Regions from separate parts of the Homo sapiens genome. Here regions 1 and 3 are each linked to region 2. The links come from fine-mapping of genetic effects on gene expression. A gene starts in region 2. Each other region holds a variant in brackets. All regions are shown on one strand. Distances are between the middles of the regions.

Evidence for each region. PIP is the estimated chance that this variant, and not a neighbour inherited with it, causes the effect. A credible set is the group of variants that fine-mapping cannot tell apart.
Region 1: its variant is the best candidate, but not a certain one, in a credible set for the expression of ZEB1 in whole blood (TOPMed, PIP 0.60).
Region 3: its variant is the best candidate, but not a certain one, in a credible set for the expression of ZEB1 in macrophages (Alasoo 2018, PIP 0.65).

The regions. Positions count from the first base shown.
Region 1 is chr10:31,439,279-31,443,521 of GRCh38, forward strand. The region is part of intron 1 of ZEB1 (zinc finger E-box binding homeobox 1); the gene reads left to right. Among named protein-coding and RNA genes, the nearest start is that of ZEB1, 120 kb to the left of the region's middle. The variant A/C (reference allele first, on the strand shown) is at 2,286.
Region 2 is chr10:31,317,208-31,321,432 of GRCh38, forward strand. ZEB1 (zinc finger E-box binding homeobox 1) reads left to right here and starts at 2,009. Exons shown (of 9, transcript NM_001174096.2): 1 at 2,009-2,085. The coding sequence starts at 2,028. It overlaps ZEB1-AS1 (ZEB1 antisense RNA 1), which reads right to left and starts at 1,888. Exons shown (of 3, transcript NR_148979.1): 1 at 1,689-1,888. RefSeq lists silencers at 1,204-1,263, 2,004-2,453, 2,494-2,583.
Region 3 is chr10:31,158,032-31,162,274 of GRCh38, forward strand. No RefSeq gene overlaps it. Among named protein-coding and RNA genes, the nearest start is that of LINC02664, 28 kb to the right of the region's middle. The variant G/GTA (reference allele first, on the strand shown) is at 1,914.

The DNA of each region.
Region 1 (4,243 bases), 120 kb after region 2:
AAACAAGTTTTCAGATAAACATATGTATGCATATTTGCATACATGTGTTAATTTGCACGGTGCCAAGAAATTGTTAGATCAACAGGTCGGCATTTTAAATTTTGATAAATATTGCCAAAGTAACACAGCATATAAGAGTGTACTCTTTTATTTAAACCTTGCATATGTCAGGCGTTACTGGGACTTTTTTGCCGATTTACTAAACATCATTTATCTAGGGATTAGTATCTACAGCCAGTGTTCTAGATGAGGGGAACAGTGGTGATCGAAACAGAAAAAATTCCTGTCTGAATGGAACTTGCATTGTAGTGTAGTAGATAATCAATCAATAAGATATTATAGTGACAAGTATTTTTAAAAGAAATAAATTGAGGGAGAATAGGGAGTGCAATGGGGGTGGGGGTGGTATTTAAATAGAGCAGTCATAGGAGACCTCCCTGAGGAGGTGGAATTGGGCAGTTCATAAAGAATATTACAGGTAGAGTGATATGAAGCAAGAGGCCAGTATACCTGGAATGCAGTGAGCCGGGGTAAAGTAGAAGACAAAGTCTGAGAGAGACAGGTGAGGAGAGTCAGCCCATGGAGGGCCTTGGATTACAGTGAATAGGATGGGAAGTCATTAGATGGTTTGACAAGATTCCACTGATGCTTTAGAAGGTTTTGTCTGCTGTGTTGAGAACTGACTACAGGAAGACAAAGGTGGCAGCACGGAGACCAGATAGGAACCAGTGACAGTACTCGAAGTGAGAGATGATGGTACCATCAGGTAGTTAGTGGCAGGGAATTGGTAGTGGGTGGTCAGATCTTGAATATATTTTTATAGGTATTTCCTTCCAGAGTAGATGCATGGGATATGAGAGAAAAAGAGGAGTCAAAACTATCACTGAGACTTTTGGCCTGAACAACTGGAGGAATGGAATTGCCGTTTACTGAAATAGAGAAGACTGAGAGACCAGGAATTGTATTTGGCTATGGTAAAAAATTTCCCATTAGAAATCCAAGTGGTGATATCACCAAAGACAAAAGCCACATGATTATCTCAATAGATGCAGAAAAGGCCTTTGACAAAATTCAACAGCCCTTCATGCTAAAAACTCTCAATAAATTAGGTATTGATGGGACGTATCTCAAAATAATAAGAGCTATTTATGACAAATCCACAACCAATATCATACTGAATGGGCAAAAATTGGGAGCATTCCCTTTGAAAACTGGCGCAAGACAGGGGTGCCCTTTCTCACCACTCCTATTCAACATATTGTTGGAAATTCTGGCCAGGACAATCAGGCAGGAGAAGGAAATAAAGTGTATTCAGTTAGGAAAAGAGGGAGTCAAATTGTCCCTGTTTGCAGATGACATGATTGTATATTTAGAAAACCCCATTGTCTCAGCCCAAAATCTCCTTAAGCTGATAAGCAACTTCAGCAAAGTCTCAGGATACAAAATCTATGGGCAAAATCACAAGCATTCTTATACACCAATAACAGACAAACAGAAAGCCAAATCATGAGTGAACCCCCATTCACAATTGCTTCAAAGAGAATAAAATACCTAGAAATCCAACTTACAAGGGACGTGAAGGACCTCTTCAAGGAGAACTACAAACCACTGGTCAAGGAAATAAAAGAGGATACAAACAAATGGAAGAACATTCCATGCTCATGGATAGGAAGAATCAATATCGTGAAAATGGCCATACTGCCCAAGGTAATTTATAGATTCAATGCCATCCCCATCAAGCTACCAATGACTTTCTTCACAGAATTGGAAAAAACTACTTTAAAGTTCATATGGAACCAAAAAAGAGCCCACATTGCCAAGACAATCCTAAGCCAAAAGAACAAAGCTGGAGGCATCACACTACCTGACTTCAAACTATACTACAAGGCAACAGTAACCAAAACAGCATGGTACTGGTACCAAAACAGAGATATAGACCAATGGAACAGAACAGAGGCCTCAGAAATAATGCCACACATCTACAACCATCTGATGTTTGACAAACCTGACAAAAAGAAGAAATGGGGAAAGAATTTCCTGTTTAATAAATGGTGCTGGGAAAACTGACTAGCCATATGTGGAAAGCTGAAACTGGATCCTTTCCTTACACCTGATACAAAAATTAATTCAAGATGGATTAAAGATTGAAATGTTAGACCTGAAACCATAAAAACCCTAGAAGAAAACCTAGGCAATACCATTCAGGACATAGGCACGGGCAAGGACTTCATGTCTAAAACAGCAAAAGCAATGGCAACAAAAGCCAAAATTGACAAATGGGATCT[A/C]ATTAAACTAAAGAGCTTCTGCACAGCAAAAGAAACTACCATCAGAGTGAACAGGCAACCTACAGAATGGGAAAAAATTTTTGCAATCTACACATTTGACAAAGGGCTAATATCCAGAATCTACAATGAACTCAAACAAATTTACAAGAAAAAAACAACCCCATCAAAAAGTAGGTGAAGGATATGAACAGACACTTCTCAAAAGAAGACATTTATTTATGCAACCAAAAGACACATGAAAAAATGCTCATTATCACTGGCCATCAGAGAAATGCAAATCAAAACCACAATGAGATACCATTTCACACCAGTTAGAATGGCAATCATTAAAAAGTCAGGAAACAACAGGTACTGGAGAGGATGTGGAGAAATAGGAACACTTTTACACTGTTGGTGGGACTGTAAACTAGTTCAACCATTGTGGAAGACAGTGTGGCGATTCCTCAAGGATCTAGAACTAGAAATACCATTTGACCCAGCCATCCCATTACTGGGTATATACCCAAAGGATTATAAATCATGCTGCTATAAAGACACATGCACATGTATGTTGATTGCGGCACTATTCACGATAGCAAAGACTTGGAACCAACCCAAATGTCCATCAGTGATAGACTGGTTTAAGAAAAGGTGGCACATATACACCATGGAATACTATGCAGCCATAAGAAATGATGAGTTCATGTCCTTTGTAGGGACATGGATGAAGCTGGAAACCATCATTCTCAGCAAACTATCGCAAGGACAAAAAACCAAACACTGTACGTTCTCACTCTTAGGTGGGAATTGAACAATGAGAACACTTGGACACAGGGTGGGGAACATCACACACCGGGGTCTGTCGTGGCATGGGGGTAGGGGGGAGGGATAGCGTTAGGAGATACACCTAATGTAAATGACAAGTTAATGGGTGCAGCATACCAACATGGCACATGTATACATATGTAACAAAGTTGCACGTTGTGCACATGTACCCTAGAACTTAAAAGTATAATAATAATAATAAAAAAAAAAGAAATCCAAGTGGAGCTATCAAGTAGATAATTTGGGATTCATAGGAGAAGTCACCTGGGATATAAAACTGGGAGTCAACAAATGGCATTTAGAGCCATGAAACAGATTGAGGAAGTGGAGGAAAGAAACGAAAAAGAAGCAGTTGGTGAGTTAAGAGGAAACTGATAGAGTCAAGAGAAGAGATTGTTTTGAAAAGGAGAGAGTAATGAATTATGTCAAATGCTGCTAAAAGATCAAGTCAAATGAGGACTGATAATTGTCATTGCATTTAGCAGTGCTCACAGTCATGACAAGAACAGTGTTGGTGGAGTGTTGTAATTGGAGTAATTTAAGATAAAATAGGAAGAAACAAATTAGAGACACATGTAGGCAACTTTTCCAAAAAGCTTTGAAGTATAGAGGGACTGAGATATAGAATTAGGAGTGCTGGAGTTTAATCAAGGTAAGAGATTAGCCAGCATAGAGATTTTGAAGCCAGAGAGAGCAAGAAAGTTGAGAGTGTACGTGAGAAGTGATTATAAAAATATAAGATTAAAATGGATATTTCTTCTGTTACTGAGGTTGAGCATCTTTTTACATGTTTATTGGGCATTCATTTTTGTGTGTGCGAATTGCTTGTGCATATTCTTACTGGGTGGTTCATCTTATGAGTGTTTAAGAATTCTCTGTAAAATAAAGATGTCAGCCTTTAGTCATATGTGTTGCACATATTTTTCACAATTTGTCGTTTGTCTTTTGACTTGATTTTTTTCTGTGTATAGTTATGGGTTTCATTTCATGCTTATAATGGCCTTCTTATTCCAGGTTTGTAAAAGGATTTGCCTATATTTTCTTCTTTTTTTTTTTTATTATACTTTAAGTTTTAGGGTACATGTGCACATTGTGCAGGTTAGTTACATACGTATACATGTGCCATGCTGGTGCGCTGCACCCACTAACTCGTC
Region 2 (4,225 bases):
GTTTAAGAGTAGGTAAAATGTGTGATAGAGCTGGAAAGTTTTTTTTTCCTTTCTGGTCAGAAATCAGGGTAGCTGTAAAAATGTTGGTGGGGTGGGGTCAATTCCATAGTCTATGACCTGATTCGGTAGGCGACTGAAAAACATTGTACAACTCTTAAAAAAAGGGAGGAAGAACTCACACTTAACCAAGCAAAGCAAGGACACCGTGTTGACATACACAAGTTTCGGTTAACATGGTATCAAGGAAAGCGAGGACTGCCTGTACTTAAAATGATCATTAAGACTAATGATTCTAGTTTTGGCATTGAGGATGAATGCAGATATATAGACATAATGTATAGCAAAGAATATTTACAGTCACATTTCATGGACCAATAAATAACGCATTTACTTCTCAAAATGCCCAAGAAAATGTGGGAGAGAAAATGTTCATTTATATTCAAGATTAAACTTTCTAACTTTAAATCATCAGACTTCAGCTGTAAATTTATTTCAGTTGAAAGGTTTGAAGACATTATTAATGAATATTCTAAAATTCCGGAAGGTGTTTAAAAGATAATTTTAACCTAATAAAAAAATCCTGCCATAGAAGTGACAAAAATTATAAGCATAAATTTATTGAGCACCTACTATGTGTCATTGTGCTAGGTGATGTACTACGTTATTTCCAATACTCCGGTCACGTTTCAGTTTTCTCAATTTCTCTATCAATAACTGCTACATTGTTAATTTATAACTATATTACTTGAAATACAGCTCAGCTTATTTATTCCATAAAGTTGGTCCCAAAGACGTTTCCTTATTCGAAGGAGGTGGGAAGCAGGAAGGAAACCTAAATCTAAATTCTACTTAATACTGAAGACGACTTTCTTGATATTTGTGGTTATCTGTATGGTCTTTTCAGAAATCCCAAAACTTGTACCAAGTCAAGGATAAAATAAGATAAAATCAGCAATCTATCAGGTTCAGAGATCACATCTGTCAGCCGATGCTTCTTGCCTTAAGGTCCTGCACGGCGATGACCGCTCATTTAGGAAGGAATTCATGGCCTGTGGATACCTTAGCTCTGAGTCCTGCCACCTAGGATCCCACGGTTCTACGCGAGGAAGAGGGCGGGGAGCGCGGACCGGGTGTGGGAGGCCGAGGTGACAGCAGGTGAGGGCCGGGTGCGGATGGGGAAGTGAGACAAGCACCGTGTGGGTATTACTCATTCCGCTCTACTAAGGAGGCTGCTGGCAAGCGGAACTTCTAGCCTCTCTTTCAATCCAGCTGAAGTTCAATCTCATTGAAGTCACTTCCCATCCCGGTTCGCTTGGGGGGAAACCAGGCGTCCCTGGAAGGGAAGGGAAGGGAGTCCGGGCTGCGCGGGTCAGGTAGCCTCTCTCCGGTCGCCGCGTGTCCTCGCCGTCCCCAAACCTGCCCTTCCCCTCATCAAGGGAACTCCCCGGGGAGTCCAGACCGCGATCCCTTTCCTTGGCCCCGGGGTGCGGGGGGCGGACACGCGAGGCGTGGGACTGATGGTAGCCCTGCCTCCAGGAAGCAGGCAGGCGGGGACCTCTGGGCGCTCGGAGGGGCAGCTCCGAGGGCACAGGGTACAGGGAGAATCAGCCAGATCCCTCCCTGCCCCGGGCAGCCGCGGCGGGTGTGGCCAGCGCGGAGGCAGGACGCCGCCGAGCCTCCAACTTTACCTTTCCAACTCCGACAGCCCGTCGCCTTTCTGACCGCGTCCCTACGGTTTCCCGGCATCCGCCTCCCTCTCCCCACCACACCTGAGGAAAACTTTTCCCTCGCCCCTCAATTCAAATTCAGCAGTGCCCACGGTTGCCGCAAACCGCCCGGTCCCTAGCAACAAGGTTCCGGCCGTAGAGCGAGAGCCTCTAGGTGTAAGGAAGGTGATGTCGTAAAGCCGGGAGTGTCGTAAACCAGGTGCGGTGGGGAGGGGGGAGGGGTGGAGGCGGAGGGGTGGGGGGGAAGGGGGAGGGAGGGGGAGGAGGTGACTCGAGCATTTAGACACAAGCGAGAGGATCATGGCGGATGGCCCCAGGTGTAAGCGCAGAAAGCAGGCGAACCCGCGGCGCAATAACGGTGAGTGGCGGAGGGGACCGGGGAGCGGCGGAGTCAGGGGGAGCTGGGCAGCCGGGGCGCCCCCGGGGGTGAGGGGGGCGAGCCGGGCTGGGGGCAGCCGGGGCAGGGACGGCAAAGTGGAGTGGGAAAGTAGAAAGTAGTGCTCTCTGCCCCCCTCCGCTGCCGCCGCTGCCGGAGCCGCGCCGCGGCCGCTCGCTCTCCCTGAACCGTTATGTCTCTTACCTGGTCTCTCTCCGCCTAGCGGCTCCCGCCGCCCCTGCCGCCTCCCTGGACCGTTAGCCGGCGCCGACGCCGCCGCATCCCCGGCGCAGGGCGGGCGGCCGGGACGCACTGGCCACTTTTCTGGTCCCGGGTGGAGCGGCTGTTGCTTCTTTCCGCACTTTTCCCCACTCTTGTGCCCTTCGGCGCCTCCCTCTCCCCCTCCTCCTGGCCCCCTCAGCGCGATTCTCCCTCAGCGCCCAGGCCCCCGGGAGCCGCGGAACAAACTTGTGCCCGGCGCTGACCGTGCAAAGTGGCTTCCGCGCGCCGCGGCCCCGGCCGGCGCCGTCGCTGTCGCTCGGGCCCCGCGACTCGGGCCGGGCTGTGGGCGCGCGGCAGGCGGGCTGCGGCGGCGGCGGGACGGGGCGGCCGCGGGTTGCGTGGGGTTTGTGCGCGCGTGTGCGCGGGCGCCGGCTGTGCGCGCCGCGGGCGGACAGGGTTCGGCCGGCGGCGGTAAAGTTGGGACCCGCGGGCCGGGCGCGCTCGCGTAACGGGGATTAGAGGCGCGGGGGCGCGGGTCCCTAAGCGCCCCTCCTCCCTGGCGCCTCCCGCTGCCCGGCCCAGAGCCCCGGCCTGGGGACTCCGCGGCGAGCCCCGCGAGTGGGGTCCACGTTTGGCGGGGCGCGGCGGGGCGGCGCGGGGAACAAGGCAGGAAAGGTACCCACTTAACGCCGCCGGGAGCCGCGCGGATGGGGGCGAGCTGGGCGGCGGGTGTGTTTGCGGAGTTGTTACCTGGGCTTAGAGACCGGGAAGCACCACAGACAGATCCCCCTCCCGGGGCAGACGAGGTCTCTGCGCCGGGATGGGCCGGTGTGCGTGCGCCTCGCGCTTTTCTCTTTCGGTTTTTGGGGAAGTTGTTACCTGGGCCGGACGCACGGAGCGCTGAAGCCGGATAATGGGGCTTGGATGGCGCTCTGGGTCTCGGGTGGAAGGAGGGTGGGGGAGGGGGCGGACGGACCGACGGACGCGCGGGGCTGCTACTTGCACCGCAGCTGCAGTGTTTATTGATTTGTGCTGCTGTGCCAAGGGAAACACACACCCCTCTGCCTGGCGTGAGAGTTAAAAAAAAAGAGAGACAGCCCGAGGGATCGAGACCTGAACATGTGGTGGTGGTTGCACAGTCGCCTTTTCCAGTTTGGAGAGACGTTGTAAGTTGATTGTATTTCTGGTTATCTCGGGGCGATGCTATGCTTTCTCTCCCTCTCGTGCAGCAGCGAAATGTCTGCTGATTGTTATTGTCTGGACAGTTCCTGTGGCGAGAGGGGCGAGACTTGTCCGCCCGGGGGCGGCGGGAGCGCAGGGAGAGCAGCCCCCGCCTGCGCCGCCCCGGTACCTGTTTGTATAATAATGGGCGGCAACGGCCCTGCCGCCGGCCGCAGCCCAGGCTATATAAGGAATTACACGTACATTTCGGACCGAGGGGCTCGCTTTGGTTCCTGCGTTATTTTTAAAACGACTTTTAAGAGAGGGGCAATAAATGCGTCTATAATGGGACCGCTGCAGCGTCGAGAAAACGAGGAAATACGTGTTTAGGAGAAAACTCTCTCGTGCTCCCCCAGCCCCACCCCCCGCGCCTGGGCTCCCTTTCTCCCTCCCCTCTGGGATGCGAAACGCGAGGTTTTGTAACCTTTCCTGGCAATTTTAGATTTTGTGTGGGATTTCCTGTCTAGAAGCAGATACGAAGATTTTTAAGCTGTTTCAAGATGTTTCCTTCCAATCCATAATTATATTTTTAATATATTCGAGCCATCATTAAAATCACTGCTTTCGTGATTTTAATTATTCAAATAAACACTTGCATTTTAAAGACGTCTGTTGATTATAAACGAAAGGTATTTTGGTATTCTCATTGTGGAGAGATGACTTGTTATAGCAAGGAGTG
Region 3 (4,243 bases), 160 kb before region 2:
TACATTGCTCACAAATTTTTCCTCATCCCCCAGGCTCCAAATTGGCAGTGATCTTTAATTCTGCTCCCTCCATTTGTCTCTGCGTCCAACAAGTTACCATATCCTACACATTTGGCCTTCTCATTTCTGCCCTCGATACTGTAATTCAGGCCTCTTATCCAACCATTGTAACAGCCTCCCAGCTGTTATTTCCACACGGAACTCCACTTCCTCCAATTCTATTATAGCATTTCCCGGTAGTCAGATTAGTTTTCCAAATATATAGCATTGGCAATGTTATAATATCATCCTCCTGCTCACAAATCTTCAGTGGTTTCTCATGGTCTATAGTTTCTTTATTTGTGCGTTCTGGCCCACTGCCTGTTTTTATAAATAAAGTTTTATTGGAACATAGCCACATCCATTTGTTTACGTATGGCTTATGGCTGCATTTGTGCTATGATAGCTGAGTTGAGTCATTGTGACAGAGACCACATGGCTTTCAAAGCCTAAAATACTATTTGGCCTTTTACAGAAAACATTTGCTGGCCTCTGCTCTAAACTGTGCTCCAGTTTTCCTTTCTGGTTTTCTTTCTTTCCTTTTTTTTTTTTTTTTTTTTTCGAGATAGAGTCTCGCTCTGTCGCCAGGCTGGAGTGCAGTGGCGCGATCTCAGCTCACTGCAACCTCCACCTCCCGGGTTCAAGCGATTCTCCAGCTACTTATTTCCCGAGTAGCTGGGAAATAAGTACACCCAAACGGTAGTATTGGGACTACAGGCACGTGCCACCATGCCCAACTAATTTTTTGTATTTTTAGTAGAGATGGGGTTGCAACACGTTAGCCAGGATGGTCTCGATCTCCTGACCTCGTGATCCACCCGCCTCGGCCCCCCAAAGTGGTTTTATTTCTTTATAGCCTGGGCTTTCATGCTGTCGTGCCTTGGCTTTCATTAATACACTCTCTGCTTAGGGAAATGCAACCCTCCAGGCCCATTTCAGGGGGACCCTCTGCATGGAGACTTTCCTAACTTCTGTTTCAATGTGACCTCCCCTCACTTTTTACTTCGCTATGGCATGTTGAGTGTTCTGGCTTTTACTACAAATATTAATCAGTATCCTATTGCTTCTCCTCTCACCCCAGTCTCTAAGCTCCTTAAAGGCAGAAGTTATGTCTTATCCATCTTTAAATCTCCCCAGGGTCACCTGAATATAGTTACTTAATAGATATTTGGAGATTTTCTTGACTCGGAAACTAGGAGTCTTTTCTTCCAGTGGCTTCCAGAATAGATAATCAACATTCCCCTACTGGGGAGAAACAAGGTGGGAGAATGAATACAACCTATGCTCCCCTAGGAAGGTTTTAAGAATTTTATTTTGTGTTTCTTGTTTTGTTTTGTTCTTGTGCATAAGAGATTAAGGAAATACACAGCTACTTTATAAGAGACTCCTTAAGAAAGAGATGGAGGCAGGACCAAGGAATGCACAAAGGATGGGGTATTTTGCCATAAAAAGTAACTGCAATACACTGAATGTGTCCCCCAAAATTCATGGTTTTAAAAAATTAAATAACTGCTTTTATTGAGATATAATTTGATGTTTTGATATGCATATGTATTGGGAAATGATTACTATAGTCAGGCTAATTAACATATCCATTACCTCACATAATTACCTTATTTTTGTAATGAGAACACTTAAGATTCACTGTCTTAGCAAATTTCGAGTATACAATGCAGCATTATTAGCTATAGTCACCATGATGTACATTAGATTTCTAGAAGCTACTTCATCTCAAATAAATGAAAGTTTATACCTTTTGACTAACGTCTCCATTTCTCCCAGCTCTCAGCCCCTAGAAGCTGTAGAGATCCATGTTTTCGCAAATGACAGGATTTAGAATTTCCTTCTTTTTTAAAGCTGAATAATATTCCAGT[G/GTA]TGTGTGTGTGTGTGTGTGTATCACACACACATGCATCTATGTATTATCTATCTATCCATCTATTCTATCTATCTATCTATCTATCTATCTATCTATCTATCTATCTCTCTATCTAGCAATTTCTTTATCCATTTACCTGTTGACAGACACAGATTGTTTCCACATCTTGGTTAGTGTGAATAATGCTGCAATGAACATGGGAGTGTAGCTATCTCTTCAATATACTGATTTTATTTTCTATAACTTTGTAATATACTTTGGGATTGAGAAGTGTGATGCCTCCAGCTTCATTCTTTTTTTTCTCGAGACTGCTTTGGCTATTCAGGATCGCTTGTTGTTCCATACAAATTTTATGATTATATTTTCCATTTCTGTGAAAATTACCACTAGAATTTTGATGGGCATTGTGTTGAATCTCTGGATAACTCTGGGTTGTATGGACATTTTAACAATATTAATTCTTCCAGTCCACAAACACAGAATATCTTTCCATTTGTGTCTTCTTCAATTCCTTTCATCAATATCTTATAGTTTTCTATGTAATAGATCTTTCACCTCCTTGTTTAAATATACTTCTAAATACTTTATTATTTTTTATGCTATTATAAATGAGATTTTTTATTGATTTCCTTTTTGGATAATTTGTTGCCGGTGTAAAGAAACACTACTGATTTCTGCATGTTGATTTTGTATCCTGCAACTTTACTGAATTTATTAGTTCTAACAGTTTTTTATAGAGTCTTTAGGGTTCTGTACATATATAATCATATCATTTGCAAACAGAGATAATTTTACTTCTTTCTTTTTTATTTGGATGCCTTTTATTTCTTTTTCTTGTCTAATCACTCTGGCGAGAACTTTTAGTACTATGTTGAATAGAAGTCATAGTGTGGACATTCATGTACCAGACCTTACAGGAAATGCTTTCAGATTTTCTTCAATGATTATGACATTTGCTGTGGGTTTTTCATAAATGGCCTTTAATCTGTTGAGGTAAGTTCATTCTATACCTATTTTTTGAGAGTTTTTAGCAAGAATGGATATTGAAATTTGTTAAGTGATTTGTGTGCATCTATTAGGATGATCATGTGATTTTTATCTTTCATTCTGTTAATACAGTGTATCATGTTGATTGATTTGTATATGTTGAACCAATCTTGTATCCCAGGGATAAATCCCACTTAGTCATGGTGTGTAATCTTTTTTATGTGCTGCTGGACTTTGTTTGCTAGTAATTTAGTTTGCTGGTATTGAGGGTTCTTGCTTTTTATTTATCAGAGATATTTGCCTTTAGTTTTTATTTTTCTTCCTTGTGGTGTCTTTGTATGATTTTGATGTCAGGGTAATGCTGGGTTCACAAAATGAATTTGAAAGTATTTTCTCTTCTAGTTTTCAGAAGAGTTTGAGAAGGATTGCTATTAATTATTCTTTGACTGTTTGATAGAATTAATCAGTAAAGCCATCAGGTCCTGAGCTTTTCTTTGTTAGAAGGTTGTTGTTTACTGATTTAATTTTCTTATATCTTATTGGTCTCTTCAGGCTTTCTATTTCCTCTTGATTAAGTCTTAATAGGTTACATATTTATTGCAGCACATCCATTTCTGCTAGGCTATCCAATTTATTGGTGTGCAATTGCTCATAAAAGTCCCTCATGATCCTTTTTATTTCTCAGGCATCCACTGTAATGTTTTCTCTTTCACTTCTGATTTTGTCTAGTTAAGGGTTTGCAAATTTTGTTTATTTTTTTCGAAAACTCAGTTCAGCTTTGATGATTTTTCTGTTCTTTCTTTTAATTCTGTATTTGATTTATTCCCACTCTAATCTTTATTATTTCTAGCTAACTTTGGGAAAAGTTTGTTCTTCTTTCTAATTCTTTGAGCTATAAAATTAGGTTACTTGAGGTGTTCTTTTTGTAATGGAAACAAGCATTTATTGCTATAAACTTCCCTCTTAGTAGTCTTGTTGCTGCATCTCATAAGTTTTGATATATTGCATTTTCATTTCTGTTTATTTTGAGGTATTTAAACAATTCTCTTTTGATTTCTTGACTCAATGATTATCAAGGAAATGCCATTTGGCTTCCATATATTTGTGAGTTTTCCTGCTTTCTCACTGTTATTGATTTCTATTTCATTCCCTTGTGGTCTTAAAGATACTTGGAATGATTTCAGTCTTCTTCAATGTGTTAAGACTTGTTTTGGAACCTACATGTGATCCATCCTGGAGAATGTTCCATATATGTTTGAGGAGAATGTGTATTCTTCTGCTGTTGGGTAGAAAGTTCTAAATATGTCTGTTAGGTCCATTTAGTCTAGAGCATTATTCAGTC